2 separate regions of the Homo sapiens genome follow, and region 2 is linked to region 1. Evidence: fine-mapped expression QTL. Tissue or cell type: lung. Region 1 holds a variant in brackets; the other region holds the start of a gene. All regions are shown on one strand. Distances are from middle to middle.

What was found. PIP is the estimated chance that this variant, and not a neighbour inherited with it, causes the effect.
Region 2: it holds the start of HAUS7, and the variant in region 1 is fine-mapped to the expression of HAUS7 in lung (TOPMed, PIP 0.98). The same link has a PIP of 0.9 or more in breast.

What each region holds. Positions count from the first base shown.
Region 1 is chrX:153,443,675-153,451,768 of GRCh38, reverse strand. TREX2 (three prime repair exonuclease 2) reads left to right here and starts at 5,713. Exons shown (of 2, transcript NM_080701.4): 1 at 5,713-5,760; 2 at 6,274-7,296. The coding sequence starts at 6,339. The coding sequence ends at 7,049. HAUS7 (HAUS augmin like complex subunit 7) reads left to right here. Exons shown (of 10, transcript NM_001385482.1): 10 at 3,860-4,101. The coding sequence ends at 3,891. The variant G/T (reference allele first, on the strand shown) is at 3,690.
Region 2 is chrX:153,466,549-153,474,629 of GRCh38, reverse strand. It overlaps HAUS7 (HAUS augmin like complex subunit 7), which reads left to right and starts at 4,054. Exons shown (of 10, transcript NM_001385482.1): 1 at 4,054-4,180; 2 at 5,369-5,484. The coding sequence starts at 4,073. RefSeq lists enhancers at 3,525-3,819, 4,333-4,432, 4,583-4,762 and a silencer at 3,693-4,002.

The DNA.
Region 1 (8,094 bases):
TGCCAGAGCTTTCCAGAGCCTTTGTGGACATCTGATTTTCCAGCCTCTCCTGAGCTTCTTGTTTAGTCTCTTGTTTGCCCCGGCTATTATGCACTGCCTCAGGCAGCAGCAGCTAAAGCATTTGCTGTAAATGTTTTCCACTGTTGCACCCCCAAGTAGTGGTTTCAGGTCCATAGCCTCTGAGCCCTAGTTTTGGAGACTGTCTTTGGATGAACCCTCCAGCCAGCCGTCTCCTCGGAGAGCCAGGCTTCTCACTGCTCTTGGCCTCGGCACATAACTACCCCATGTATACCAGGCACTGAGGAGCCTCTTCTTGCCAATTGAACTGCAGCAGAACCCTCCACTTTAAAATGTATTATAGCGTTTATCCTAATCACCAGTCACTATGACTCTCTTCCCAGTTTTTATAATTGCTGTTAGTAAACTGCTTATAATCTATGCCATCATTCTTATAATGATCATTGGTATTCGCAACAGTGTGCCATCTCACCTGTGACTGTGGCACCATAGGACTGGTGGCAGGTCTTGCCTTTCAGAAAGGCCCCTTATCGCTTCTTGGCTAAGATCAAGTGTAGTATCTGTTCTTACCAGAAAGGCACCCTTTACATCCAGGCCGTGTGAACTGGGCAGTGCGTTGTGTACAGGGAAGTGTCTCTTCACCCTTGAGCCCCGGCCACTTTGGGGGTCTGGAGAGACGCCAGGGGAGCAGGCCTACGGCGGGCATCGGCCTCTCTAGGGGCTCTCAACTCAGCTCCCATCAGTTCAGCATCCTGATGTGGCTTGAGATGAATTCTTAGTGTCTGGACACACCAGAGAAAGGGTCAGCATCAAATCCACGCCAAAGGCCACTCGGGACAGTTCTTTATTTGTCCCGTTTCCCATCTGACCCCTTGAGGGCCGTGGTCTCGATGGCCCTCCTCCCGCTGTGGAAGGCCGTGTTTCTGTGCTGTTTCACCTCCCAGCGATCTGCATGCCCGCAGCCAGGCTCTGTTGGAGGTGCGGCACCACCTATGAAGTGAGGAGCAGCCAGTGTGCCTTCTGGGCTCTTGCTGGGGGCATGGCCTCATGTGAGTTGGGAGGGCCTTGGCACTGTGGATCAGCACCACACACCAGGAGTCGCCCCCCAGGCTTCCTGAAACCTCACTGCCATGAAAACATCAATGTATTTAGAAACCGAAGCAATGCTGTCAGTGCAAGAATGGGACAGGAGAGTTGAGGGTACCAACAGTGGAGAGATGCCACCAACCCCGGCAGTGGTGACGGGCTCAGCGGGCGGGGAAGGTGGCAGCCTAGAGGACAGCCCAAGGGGCAGCGGGGTGCCAGGGACAGGGCAGTGGTGAGCAGATGGAAGCAGAGGGCACAGGTGAAGCAGGTCTGGAGAGGCCCACCTCCCCGGCGAGACCCTAGCCTGTTCTTCTGTGAAGAAAGTGATGGAAATGAATAAGCAAACCAGCTCCCAAGCTGGTGGCCCGGCTCACACAGAGCCTGAGCGGCTCCCAGCTCGTCTCTTGATGTGGCTGATGTGGCTGGCGGCAGCCCGGGTGAAACCTACCTTTTTGCAGCCTCTGAGGGTCCATGGGGCAAGAGCTGATCCCTGCCTCGCCTCCATGGAACTCCTCCAAACTGTCCTCCAGAGAGAGACCCCACAGGCAACGGCTCCACCACAGCAGACCAGGGGCAGTGGCAGCTACCCAGATCCTCTTCCCAGCCCCTGTGGCTCGAAAAGCAGCCCCATGCAGGAGAGAAGGAAGCCCTGGATGAGCAGGAAATCTGACCTGAAGGACTTTCCGACACCACTGAATACACTCAGTGCGACATCCAGACATGCTTGGACAGCTGTGAAAACCCAGCCACAAAGAGACTAGAAACGAAGTGAGGCTGGGATCTCTAAGAAGAGAGAAAACAGAGAGAAAAACCAGCACAAAGATCAGCATCACACAGGCCCCAGCCAGGCACAGGGTCTCCAGGGCAGGGGACAGGGGAGATGAAGGGCAGGGCTCCGGAGGAGGTGGGCACACAGTACAAGCCAGGTGAGTGCAGGCGCCGAGCACAGGGTAGATGGAACCCACCTCCTGCCATCTGGAGTACAGGGGCCAAGGGCTGGGGCCAAAGCTTCAAGAGAGACAGCCTGTGGCCTCAGAGGAGCAGCCAGGATGCCTTACAAGCACTGAGGGCCCTGCACACCCGGCCTTGGGCTCTGGACCCTGCCAAGCCCTGCACCAAGAGTGAGGGCAGAGCAGGAAGGCCGGGATGGAGGTCTAGACGATTTGATAAGGGCAGATGCCACACGAGGGACACAGTCCGGAGCCTAGGAAGACAGTCTAGAGCAGTGCGCATTGCGGCAGGAAGCCCCTCTGCTGGGATGCCACTGGAAGCTGATGGCGAGTGGAGAGGGTCCTGGGGCGCAATTCCAGGCGGGCTGAGCACATTCCCCAGCTCGGTGTCACCCCGAGGCACACCCCAGGATTCCTGAGCTTCAGAGTCACCCTCGGGATGGGCAGAGGATGACAGATTCAGGGTTCACAGCACTTAATGTCAATGCTAATGACTTCAACATGTAAAAGGCAAAGTCTAGCTGACAGTGGGGCCACGGATGGGGAGCGGACAGGCAGGGCAGGTGAGGGGCTGTGTCCTCCTCTGTCTGCTGGGGGAGGGGGATGATGGCCATGGTCTAGGGTTGGCAACTGAGAGGCAGATGTGGTCATGGCAGATAAGGTCAGCGCAGCCACCACGGTCGCCACTGGGCCGGGCAGCCAAGGCTTAGGGCTGTCTGTGTGATTGGGTTTATTGTGTGTGCAGTGTTCTCCATCTGGTTAATACTGAACGTGCCACTGAAGTCAGGACAGCCCCTGCCTCCTCACTGTGTGCCATGTGCTGCCCCTGGGGCTTGGGGGGCAGGGGGCAGGTGGGCGGGGGCACAGCCGGGTCAACAGACCCTGGCCTGGGTCTCGGAACTGTGCTGCGGTCGGTGTGACCCAGCCCAGGGCTCCCAAGCTGCTGGCCTGGTCCCCACAGAGCCTGAGCAGCTCCCAGCTCGGCAGTGCCTGTCCCTTCCCTGCCATCCTGGTGGTGCCTGGGGCTCAAGGAGGATCAGCTGAGGACATGTGCCTTGAGTGGTGGGCAGGAGGCACCTCGCCTCTTGCGCCAGGCTCGCTTTCCTGTTGGTTTCTTTTCTATTTATTTATTTGTTTATTTTATTTATTTATTTTATATATATATATTTTTATTATACTTTAAGTTCTAGGGTACATGTGCACAACGTGCAGGTTAGTTACATATGTATACATGTGCCACGTTGGTGTGCTGCACCCATTAACTCGTCATTTACATTAGGTATATCTCCTAATGCTATCCCTCCTCCCTCCCCCCACCCCACAACAGGCCCCAGTGTGTGATGTTCCCCTTCCTGTGTCCAAGTGTTCTCATTGTTCAGTTCCCACCTATGAGTGAGAACATGCGGTGTTTGGTTTTTTGTCCTTGCGATAGTTTGCTGAGAATGATGGTTTCCAGCTTCATCCATGTCCCTACAAAGGACATGAACTCATCTTTTTTTATGGGCCGCGTAGTATTCCATGGTGTATATGTGCCATATTTTCTTAATCCAGTCTATCAGTGTTGGACATTTGGGTTGGTTCCAAGTCTTTGCTATTGTGAATAGTGCTGCAATAAACATACGTGTGCATGTGTCT[G/T]TATAGCAGCATGATTTATAGTCCTTTGGGTATATACCCAGTAATGGGATGGCTGGGTCAAATGGTATTTCTAGTTCTAGATCCCTGAGGAATCGCCACACTGACTTCCACAATGGTGGAACTAGTTTACACTCCCACCATCCTTTTGGTTTCTTTTCTTTCCTCTGCAGCTACCAAGATGAATGAACTAATGGAGAAATAGAAAGTCTTCAGTGATGGCCTACGCCAAAGCACAGGATGGGGCGGGCAGGAAGCCCTCTCCCAAGATCGAGTTGGCCGAGGATGGATGATTGTGGCAGCAGAAGCCGTTGCAGCCCCACGTTGTGCTCTAGGCAGGGACCTTTGGCCCCTTTGGGGAGGGAGAGACAGACGGGCGGTTTGACTTGGACACAAAGAAAGCCTTGGTTTCTAAGCAGTTGCCTCCAGCCTGCTTTCTGCTTCCTCAGCTCTATGTCTCTCTCCTTCCCCTTGTCCTGAGCTGCTCAGGTGGCCCAGGTCTGGGCAGGCTGGCGGCGGCCCTCCTGTCATCTTGGCGGGCCTGGGCTGCGTCCTCTTCCTGTGGCTCCACTCCTCCCTGCTGCTGCCAGCCACTTGAAAGCAGAGAACCCACTGTCGCCTCCCCCGGCTGGCCTTAGGGTCCTGTGCGAGACGCACCCCTCAGCCGCCCTCCTTGAGTGCCCCTGGATCCCCCGCGGGGTACCAGTTTCCTGCTCCTCCCTGGCTGGGCGCTCAGCTCTGGGCTGGGGAATTCAGCCTGACTGGTTGTCCAGGAAGATGCTGTCTGGGCTTCCCAGGGTGACCCAGTATCTCCCTGAGCAGTGTGCCTGTCACAGCTGCCTCCCTCCCTGTGAGTACCGGAACAGGCGTGACTGGTAGGGCCTCTGCCTCCTTGGGGCCATTGTACCTGCTGCTGCCCGCCCCACCCTGCTCCCTCCTGGCACCATCTCCTTTGCTTCCCCAAGGTCCCTGTGGGCACACAAGGCAAGGAGGCCAGGAGGAGCCAGGTGCCAGACCCCCCTCCATCCCAGTCGCCTGAGGCATCCCCCAGCCACCACTGTGAGAGGTGGGAGGCCGGGCAGGCCTGTGGTCACCATGGTGCAGGTGCACCACCTGATTTATAGGCCAAGGGACTCCTCTTGGTCACCTCTCTGTGCCCCCAGCATGGGGCTGGCCCTGCAGTGCACCCACCATCAAGGGCTGTTGTCTCTTGCTCCAGAATGAGGTCTTCAGGGCGCCACTGCTCGCAGGACCGGGAAGGACCTGGTGCCCTTTGCCTGGAGCGGGATAGACAGGGCAGGTCCCTGAGCCTGGGGTCCGAGGGGCTGGGCTTCACTCCTCCTGTAGTCCCGGCGCTCCTGGCCCACCCCCTAACGTTGCTTATCTGTGGTGGAGGAAGCATTAGCTCAGCTGCGGCCTGCACAGCTCCCGGGCCAGGCCCACCTCCCTTCCTTCCCCAGCAGCCACTGTTAGGTGCACGGTAGACATGATGAAGCGACGTCCTTAAAGCAGATAGCATCTCCCGAGGCTGCCCCATCCCTAGGTTTTGGGGGAGCACCCCTTCCCCTTTGGAGGCTGAGCACGGCATGTGTGGGCACCTTGGTCACACTCCAGAGCTCGCTTCATCCCCACGAGCGGCACCTGATCTCCAGTGACGGGGAGACTGAGGCCTGGCAAAGAGGACCTGTTGCCTTTGTGTAACTGGCCCCAGCATGGGGGAGGCATTGGCCCCAGCATGGGGGAGGCATTGACCCCAGGCCTGCCAGGCCTGGCAGCCACAGCCTGGCTAGGTGGAGGTTACTGCCTTCCGCACCACTCTGGCTTCCTCCCCGTGCCTGTGAAGAGCTCGGGGCCTGCTTCCTAATTTGTAAACACGGGGCGTGTGTCTCAGTGGCTGTGAGCTAGCGAGGGGGTGGCGAGCGAGCCGGCTGCGCAGGTCCTGAGGCCCCAGGCCTCATTGTTGGCCAACAGGCAGCTGGGGGCGGGCTGCGGCCGCTGATTAAAGGCCGCCTAGAGCAGCCTGTGTGGCGACAGGTGCCCAGAAGCCCAGGAAGCCGGTCAGTGCCCGCCCCAGGTAAGCTGGTGTGGTGGGGTTGGCAAGGACAGTCTCCCCGGGAGCCTGGGGGCAAGCAGGCAGAGGCCAGCTCGGGACCAGCACCTGTGTGCCAGGGACAAGGGTGGGGAGGTCGAGCCCAGCGGGAGCTGGGTGCACTGCATGGGCTCTTTCGGGTGGCTGCTTGCCTGCTTCCCGGCAGCTGGTTCCAGGGCTGGAGACCCAGTGTGCTATGCCCCAGGTTCCCAGCCAAGGCATTCCGGTGAAGGGGCTGGACCCCGCCAAGGTGCGGTCCCTGAGCTGCCTCTGCCTCTCCCAATCCCTGCTGGGGACTGTGGCTGGAGGCAGGCAGTAGAGCGCTCTGAGGCCTGCCTTTTCTGTTCAGTAGGTGACAGGAGTGGGGCTGACGCTCCCAGAGCCAAAGGTCACAGGTGCTGTGGTCGGGGGTGGCAGGAAGTGAGCCCCAGAAGGGTCAGAGCTTTGGCTAGGGGGAGGATGGTACACAGCAGGGCCCGGGCGAACCCCTCTCTCCAGTCCTCAGGGTTTGTGCCTCTCGCTCGGACAGTTTGAGGACTTGCTATCCCCGTGGGAACATCACCATGTCCGAGGCACCCCGGGCCGAGACCTTTGTCTTCCTGGACCTGGAAGCCACTGGGCTCCCCAGTGTGGAGCCCGAGATTGCCGAGCTGTCCCTCTTTGCTGTCCACCGCTCCTCCCTGGAGAACCCGGAGCACGACGAGTCTGGTGCCCTAGTATTGCCCCGGGTCCTGGACAAGCTCACGCTGTGCATGTGCCCGGAGCGCCCCTTCACTGCCAAGGCCAGCGAGATCACCGGCCTGAGCAGTGAGGGCCTGGCGCGATGCCGGAAGGCTGGCTTTGATGGCGCCGTGGTGCGGACGCTGCAGGCCTTCCTGAGCCGCCAGGCAGGGCCCATCTGCCTTGTGGCCCACAATGGCTTTGATTATGATTTCCCCCTGCTGTGTGCCGAGCTGCGGCGCCTGGGTGCCCGCCTGCCCCGGGACACTGTCTGCCTGGACACGCTGCCGGCCCTGCGGGGCCTGGACCGCGCCCACAGCCACGGCACCCGGGCCCGGGGCCGCCAGGGTTACAGCCTCGGCAGCCTCTTCCACCGCTACTTCCGGGCAGAGCCAAGCGCAGCCCACTCAGCCGAGGGCGACGTGCACACCCTGCTCCTGATCTTCCTGCACCGCGCCGCAGAGCTGCTCGCCTGGGCCGATGAGCAGGCCCGTGGGTGGGCCCACATCGAGCCCATGTACTTGCCGCCTGATGACCCCAGCCTGGAGGCCTGAGCACCAGGGCCACCTCCTGTGCCATGGACAGTGCCAGCCTCCACCGTTCAGCTGGCCTCTACCACCCCCGGCTCCTCCTATCTGGGCAGCCTCAGGTCCGTGCACCTGCCAGGCCTTCCCTGGCTGCCTGACCAGCCATACGGCCCTGGATTCCTCTCCAGGCCCCGCTTCCAGGGCCGTGCTCTCCCGGCTGGCCTGGGTGCCCAGCAGAGTTTGCTGTTTCCCAATAAACATTGCCAACTACTCACCCTCCGACTAGCTGGCCAGATACTAGGGGCTGGACTCCCTCGACCCCCTGCTGAGCAGGGCCAGGCGGTGAGCCATGCCAGGGGCCAGCACAAGACCTCCAGGGCCGCCCCCCTATGGCCTCTCCTCGCGGTGAGGACCGTGGGTGGCTGGGTAGGGAGACGTCAAGCTCTTGGGTTGGTCTGAGGGCTGATGGGTTGTGGCTGTGGGCTGATTGCCGCCCATCTGCATTGTCACCCCAGAGGCCCAAAGAAGCCATGAGTAGGGCCTTAAGCCCACAGAGCCGGCCGCCTGCCTGGGCACAAAGCTCAGCTGCAGCGCTTGCCCGCCGTGGGACCTGGAGTCTCTGTCCCTGCTCTGTGAAGTGGTAACAGGGTGAAATGTTAAGAAACGGGGTGCTGGGGAAAAGGGAGGTGCCCCCACATGTGGGCATGCACATGTACATGTACATGCTAAGGGCCCTGACGGTGCACGGAGCAGAGGTGGGGTGGCTGGTGCTGTGAGGGTGACCCTGGAAGGGAGCCTATCCTGCAGCCCGTGTCCCCGTAGGGCCAGGAGGCCGCTCGGTGGGAGGGCAGCTTCTGGCCACCGCACTGTGCTTTGGGTTCCCTGCTAACCTGCCTCAGGGGCCCCACCCTGAGGCACTTCCAGTCTTGGGAGGCCTCATGGGTGGGGAGAGACCTGTCACCAACGCTGGGTCAGGTAAGAAGGGATGGGGTGGCCACGCCTGAGAGTGACTCACATGAGCAAAGCCTGAGCCTCCAGCCAGCTGGACAATCTGGGAAGCCCTAAGTAGGTC
Region 2 (8,081 bases), 23 kb before region 1:
ACCATCCCTCCCATTTTTGGGGCCCGGGGCAGGAGGACAAAGATGGACCGCTGAGCCACTGCCTCCCTGCCAGCCAGACTCTGTCCACACCCCCTACAACTGCCTCTGGCCTCAGAGCAAGGGTCGCCCTAGGTCGCAGGCCCTGCCCTCTTGCAGGAGCCTGTGGCCTGGGGGACAGGGCGGGGTAGGTGATGGTAGCACCTCCAGGCCCACTGGAGGCGATGGTGATGGCGATGGTGGTACCATGCTGACTGCGCTGCGGAATGTGCTCTTGCAGGAGCTGGTGGCCTGGGGGCAGGATGGGGCAGGTGAGGGCCCCTCAACTGCAGGAGGTGAGGGTGGGGCCCTAAAGCAGGAGGCCCAGCATAGGGACTAGAAGTGACAGGAAGAGGAAGCCAAGGTCCCAAGGCAGCCTCTCCATTCTCATATGCCAGTAGACTCCAAAGATGAACACGGAGGCCTAGGAGGAGAACGTTGTAGAGTTGAGTCTTCAGGCAGCTCCCAGGTTGACAGTGTGGTCCCTCCAGAGTTAGGGCCACAGGCCGCAGGGCTCCCCCAAGCTTACAGCCACTTCCTTGTCTCATTTGCAAGGCCCCCACCCCTGCTTTCGTGTTCTCCATCCCTTCCCCCATCTGCAAGGATAGGGCTGGGTTTCGGGTGGGCTCCTGGCTGGTGCAGATGGCGTGGGCTGCCCGCAAGACCTGGGTACTGAGCCTGCATGCCAGGATGCAGGGTGGATGGGTGACCAACAGCTCAGCCTGGCAGCTTAGCAGCAGAGAGGTCCCAGGAAGACAGGGAGGAGATGAGGAGAAGGAAGAGGGAGAGGAGGACAGGACGGGGAGGGAGGGGAGGGGAGGCAGAGGCAGCCCCCTGGCTTTGCCTTGCCTGCGGAGAGCCTCACACTCAGACCGTCCTGAGCCTGACCTCATTACTCTGTCACATTTCTCCCTCAAACCCAATGCCAGGGCTCACCACTTGCTTCTCGCATGGGTGTGATCAGCTTCTCATCTTAGACCTGAACTCTCCCCAAAACACACACACGCACACACACGCACACACTTGCCTTGTCTTCAACAGCTTGCATTTGGTACTCTCCACCCTTACTGAGGAACTTTAGTGGCCAGGGGTGGGGGGTGATGGAGGACACTTCAGTCCCTCAAAGGCTCCTCCCCAGGTTCCCTGGTTCAGGGCCGGGAGTCGAAGTGGCCCCGTGGAGCAAGGCCTTCTAGGGCTTTAGCTCTGACAGCATTCTAGGGCCTAGGCGCCCCCAGGTGGGGTGGCTCCCCCTCAGGTCTAACTCCAGCCCCTGCCAGAAGCAGACCCGCCTCTGCAGAGAGGAAAGCCCTTGGACTTCAGCTTCCTTTGATTCGCGGTGTCTTTGGGGGATTGGGGGGTCCCTGGTTGATTCCCGCTGCACCGTGGGGTCTGCCCTTAAGGTCATATGAAGAGCAGGGCCCGGATGCTCTGAGGACTTTTTCAATACCCTCCACAGGTCAGGGAGGCTGCCCACTTGGTGAGCTCAACTGTTTGGCCATATATCTCTGGGCCCACCACACAAACTGAGAGGTCTCGAATGCCACCAGCACCCGCCAGCCCATCTCTGGCACAGCGGGGCCAGTGCCGTGAACCAGTCTCATTTTCCAACGTGTTTTCCAAGCACTGACACGGCTGAGGCCCTGCTGGGACGCATGGCCAACTTTCCTCCATGACCAGGACCCCCCAGCTTCCCCGCCACATCCACAGCTTCCCCCCAACATCCCTCCTCCAGGTCAATGGGTCCTTCAGCCACATTTTTGGCTCCTGACCCACCCAGGCCTCCCTCAGAGAACCTGGGGTCTCTGGGTTGGAATGTCCCTTAGAGATGTGCCCCCTCCCTCCCCCATGGTAGGACTCAACCCTCCACATCCCCGCCCACCCACCTCCCTGGGCTTGTAGACCTTCTAGGACCGGGAGCTCCCTTCCTCTCCTGGCAGCCAGCTGGTGTTCAGACAGTGATTTCTGGGAGGAGTGCTTTCTTGGACTGAGCTTGAGTCCACATTTCCAGAAGCTTCTACCTCTGGGCCCCTTCTTTCCCCCTTCCTGAGAGGCCCAGCAGCCTCTCTGTTCCCTCCCCAGCCTCCAGCTTTTCCGGAGGAAGATGCCTGGGAGGTGCTATGATTCTGGGGGCGGGTGGTGGGTGGCAGGTGGTGGGTGGTGGGTGGTGGGTGGTGGGGTGGCGTGGGCAGGGAAGCTGCAGCCTGCTGCTGGGTCTTCAGCGACCATCTCCAGGGGCTGAGGGCTGGCCAACAGGTTCTCCATGAGGGGGATGGCCTCCATAACCTCTCAAGATGATCTTCGCCTCTCAAGGCCCTGCCAGTTCCTCAGGGTCCCATAGACTGAACTGCTGAGGTTGGGGAGGCCTGTTGAGCACACTGGCTCCGTGGAGCTGGGTGGAGGAGGGAGATTTTCTTCCAGAGTACACAGGAGCTGGTTTCTTCCCGGTCCTCAGGAGCAGAGAATATGGGGAGGGTTGGGGGAGGCTGCCACACTGCCGTGGTTTCTTCCGCCAAATTCCCCAGTCCTAGGAAAGATCCACAGAAAAACCCACAAGAATTTGAATGTCTGAGCTGGGGCTGTGATTGAGATGAAATTTTCTAAAAAGAAAGAAAGAAAAACAAAAACAAAAAAGAGGGAAAAAAACGCTTAAAAAAAAATCCCAAAGCCTTTGACAGCCCTCAGCTACCAGAAGGGCCTGAGGCAGCAGCCACGTGGAAGGGTAGAGAGCAACCTTGAGGCACTTCGCTGGGCCTGTGTCGGGGCCTCCCAGGCTGAGGTCCCTTCCTGTGACCCCCGGACTCCTGCCCGCTCCCTCCTCCCAGGACGGAGTGAAGTCCCCTCCTGTCACTTGGATGACTGCAGTTGCCTCCCAGCAGGTCCCTGGGTCTCCCTGACTATAGACTTGCCCCCTGATCCCACCCTCCAGGAGATGGCAGGGTAGGGCACAGAGGAGGGCACAGTGGCAGCTGCCTGCTGCTGTCTCCTGGCTACTGGGCACAAGCCACCCTCCAACTCCTTCCTGCCTTGCCCAATCAGCAGGTCCCTGGGTAAGGGGCATTCAGTGAACTGGGGGCTTTGCAGGTCTGGGGGAGGAGCGACTGACATATTTCATTGCAGACGCATTGAGTTTGAGGGTCCTGAGGGATGTAGAAAAATTTGTTAAGTAGACAGGATAGGAAGGAGCCACAGGTAGCCCCAGGAGCCGTGAGGGGAGCAGGGCCCAGCATGTATTACAATAGTGAGCATTTACGTGGTTCTTCGCATGCGCCGGGCACTGTTCTAGGGATTCCACAGGAATTATTACCGCCTGCCATCCTCATTAGCAACCCAGTGGGTAAGGTGCTCTCATTAGCTCCATTAGGTGAGGGCAAAGAGGCACAGAGAGGTTAGGTAACTGGTTCAAAGGCACACAGCTGGTGAGTGACAAGAAATTTCCTTCTAACTACAGCGTGAGCATGGTGAAGAGAAGACGGAGCCCCGCGCTGGGAGAGGAACGCTTCAGTCCGAGTTCCATTCTGCACCCAAGGCTCCCCTTGGTCCTCCTGGGAACCAGGGTGCCCCTTAGTGGTGGTGGCCCAGGAGAACCCGACCAAGGCAGGAGCGCCCCCTCCTGGAAGAGCCTCGCTTCAACGCATCATCATTCCCGGCCGGCAGCAGGGGCGACGCCAGCAAGGCCTGCGACTCAGAGCCAGCTTGGCCCGTTCGCCCCGCCCCTTCCCGGTGTCCGCCCCGCCCCTTTCCCGGTGTCCGCCCCGCCTCCTTCCCGGTGTCCGCCCCGCCCCCTTCCCTGTGTCCGCCCCGCCCCCTTCCCTGTGTCCGCCCTGCCCGCTTCACTGTGGTCCTGCCTCTGGGTGGTGCCGGGGCGGGGGGTGGGAGCCCGGGGCCCGCGCAGGCGGAGATGTCGCCCAATGGGAAGGGTCGGTCGGGAAGGGGGTGGGCGCAGGCGGGTGGGCGGGAAGAACGCTGGAGGTTGATTGGCGGTCTTGCCGGCCAGTGAAGCCAGGGCATGGGCGGGGCGCGGCTCGGAGCGCGAAACATGGCGGGGCAGGACGCTGGCTGCGGCCGTGGCGGCGACGACTACTCAGAGGACGAGGGCGACAGCAGCGTGTCCAGGGCGGCTGTGGAGGTGTTCGGGAAGCTGAAGGTGCTGTTGGCCCAGAAAGCCACTCCAGGGCGGGGGACCGGGGAGGGCCCCGCCCGAGGCCCGGGAGGGCTTGCTGCGGAAGTCCGCGGCGCCACGCGGCCACCGTCGCCGGTTCCGGCTGCGCCCTGTTCCCTTGCAGCAGGGGGTGCTTGTGGATCATTCATCTTTGCCCTTTGGTGTGCCCCAGGCCTTCGTTCTTGCTGTCTCCACGGCCCGTGCCTGGTAGTTGGGGCCAGCACCGCCTGTGGAACTGCAGTACCCGCGCTGGGCGCTCGGAGCAAGTGCAGACACAGAGGACCCAGGCCTGGCCTTAGGGATCTTGCGGGGTCTGGGGGGACAGATGGGCAGAGCCTCGTGCCACTCTGTCAAGTCAGCGAGACTAGGGCTTGGTGTCAGTTGGTGTCAGATGCCAGGGGTGATAGCCTCCAGAAGCCCTCTACAGCCCCACAGGACAGAGCCCTCACTGCAGCAGTGAGGAAAGCTGGCCCACGAGGTTAGGGAGCTGTCCCAGGTCCCCTCGGCCCGCTCGCTCCTCCCCCCAGACACTCCCCCATCCTGTCCGCGACTGGCTCAGTGGTCCCTCTCCCTTTCCCTCTCCCCTTTCCCTCAGTCCCGAAACCTAGGACTCTCTCTTAAGTCTTAGTCTCAGGCGTTGCTCCTAGGTCCTGCTGCCACAAGAGCCCAGAGTGGGAGTACTTGAAAGAGGTGGGGTCTGCATGCCGCGGGAGATGTGGGGTTAAGAATGGGGGGACTTGAACTCTTGGCAAGATGGCAGGACGCGGGTAAAGGAAAGGGTCCTGGGAGCTTGCAGATGTACACTGAGGACTGGGCGCGGCGGCCCACGCCTGTAATCCCACCACTTTGGGAGGCTGAGGTGGGCAGATACCTGAGGTCAGGAGTTTGACACCAGCCTGGCCAACATGGTGAAACTCCGTCTCTATTAAAAATACAAAAATTGTCCGGGCGTGGTGGCGCATGCCTGTAATCCCCCAGCTACCCTGGGAGCTGAGGCAGGAGAATTGCTGGAACCCAGGAGGTGGAGGCTGCAGTGAGCCGAGATCATGCCACTGCACTCCATCCAGGCTGGGCGACAGAGTGAGACTCCGTCTCAAAAATAAATAAATAAATAAAATGAAATGATGTACACTGGGACTTTCAGTGAATGTTGCTTTCCTTTTCCTTGCTTAGGACCTAAACTGCCCCTTCCTCGAGGGTCTGTATATCACAGAGCCAAAGACAATTCAGGAACTGCTGTGCAGCCCCTCAGAGTACCGCTTGGAGATCCTAGAGTGGATGTGTACCCGGTAATGCATCAGTTTCTTCCTCTTCCCACCTGGGGTGTGCATGGGCGCCAGCCAGCCCCACCTGGGGAAGATGGGGTTTGTGGTTACTGTGAGTAGCTGTCTTCCCAGAGGGCTCCACCCCCTAGCCTGGACCCTCGTGAGAACAGCTGTGTAGGTAAGGAGTACTGGTGACAGGCATGATCAAACTTGGGGCAAAGTGGCCCCTGGCGGTGCTGGGCTAGTCCAGCCACCCCTTTGCTGCAGTGCTGAACTTGCCCTCAGCGTTTGCCTTGCCTTATGAGTTTGGAGGTTCAGGACTGGCAGGCACCTGAGAAATGCTCCATTCCAGTCCTTTCCTTCTCAGACCCGGAAGCCAAGGGTCAGGCTGGAGGCATGAACAGTCTCTGGTCTCCCAGTGGAGGAGTGACAGGCAGGGCCAGGGCGTGGGCTCCTGGCTGGGTCTCAGCTGGCCAAGTGGTCCTCATGCAGTGTCACCTCTTGTCAGCTTCTGTGCCGTGACCCGTTTCCCAGTCCTCTGGTGCCTTTGGGCCAGGGTGTAGCATGGTGTGTGCCTGGCACCCTATGAAGCCCATGGTGACAGGGTGACTTCCTGAGTGATGGTGGAGGAAATGATCCAGAGTGTCCCATTCCCAGGGCAGACATCCTTCCCCTGGTGACGTAGTCCCTGAGCTGAGGGTCTGTCTCACTGCCTCACAGCTGTGAGTGGAGAAGGCTTTCCCCGCCTCCCACAGAGCACAGGCTCCTGTGGGATTGGGTGTGTGCCCAGGCCATGCTCAGGAACAGCTGTAGTCTGTTGGTACAGGAGCCTCTCGTGAGTCCAGGCCCGGGCCTCCCCCTCCTCAGCCTGCGGCCTGCCTACCCTTGCTGCTTGAGGAAGGGGCCTGGGCGGGAGCCTGGCAGTAGAGCAGTGGGGAGCCAACCTGCATCCAGCCGGTCTGGCCCGCCAGGACCAGAGACATCAGCAGGACGCCCAGCTGGATACAGGCCCCCAGAGGAAGGAGGAGGCGTTTTTGTGTTTGAGCCCTTGCTGTTCCAGAGGCGTCTCCTGCCTCTGCCTTCTAGGCCCTTCCTCAGGCCTCTCCCCAGGGCTCAGCACAGCAGCTCCTCGCTTCATAACCTTTTGCTCTTGCTCACATTGTTCCCCCTCCTGGAAATGGCCTTCTAGTCTCTGCATGTCGTACGTCCTCCTGTACAGCCCGCAAAGACCCAACTCACACGTCCTGTCTCCTTTTAAAATGTTTCCTGTTCCCAGGGCAGAATGTATTCCGCTTCCCTCTGGATGCCCACAGCCTTTGAGCACACCCTGCCCCTGCTGGAGCCCTCAACCTGTGGGTGCACTCTTGGCCTGCTGTCATTTCCGGCTCTTTAGTATGGGAGCCGCAGCATGGTGTGGCCGTGCAGTCGGGGGGTTCTCCAGGCTGCACCTGTGTGCCATTCCACGCGCTGCAGACGTGACTGGGTGTCCTCAGGAGCTGGGTATTTAGTGGGTACAAGTCCTGGGGTTCAGCAGAAATGATGCACAGCACTGCAGTCTGAGTTGGGTGCTGTGGATGTTGGCAGGGAGGAGGTGGCATTTGATCTGGGATGGGGACGGTAACAGCGGGGTGCTCGTTTGGACAGGAGCAGGGAGTTGAGGTGTGGGAGAGAGAGCTGGGCAGCAGCAGCTGGAATGGCAGCTCAGGGCAGCTCCCTCAGGGCCTTGCATGCTGTGCCAAGGCCTTTGAGCTTTATGTTCTGGGCAGGGCAGGCGTGGAACCTGGGGAGCGACGTGCTGAGATTGGCATTTTGGTAAGGTGACTCAGGGTGCTCTGTGGCAGATGGATTTGGAGGGCAATGGCTGCAGGCAGGGAGACCAATACCCCAGGGAAAGACAGAAGGAGCCCTGCGCTGAGTGGCAGATGGCTTGTCTGGCAGCCACTACTGGCCCTGGAGGGACCAGCCCCTGGCCTGGGAACCTGGGAGGCTGGGAGGTGAGGCAGGACTGGAGATGGCTGGGTGGAGTGTGAGGGTCTTGAGCGAGCTCCCAGGAGGAGGCTCTTGTGGGAGGGGGCGCAGATTTGCCTGACTCAGGTGGAAGCTGGGGGCACTTGGGGAACTGGGGTCATCTGGCCAGAGAGGGACGGGTAGGAGGCCAAAGCCACGCCCCTCAGATGCTTCTACAGGTTGAGTGTCCCATATCCAAAATGTCTGGGGGCCAGAAGTGTTTCAGATTTCGATTTCTTCGGATTTTGGAATATATGCATTATACTGGTCGAGTGTCCCTAATCTGAAAATCCGAAATCTCAAATGCTCCAGTGAGCATCTCCTTTGAGCGTCATATCGGCGATCAGAAAGTTTAGGATTTTGGAGCATTTCAGGTTTTCAGATTAGGGATATTCAACCTGTAGTACTTCTGTAAATACCAGAAACCGAATCCTTTGAAAAAGCTGCCAGGGAGCATACGATGACGTTGTCTGATTTCAGGTTGGCGAGAATTCCTTAGGCCTTTTGAGGGTCCTACAGGAGAATCAGATGGATGGGAGTTTTCCTGTGAATTTCCCATTGCCTTTCTTTGTACGTGACCGCACCCTGTCAGCCCCATTTAGGGCCGCCTTTTC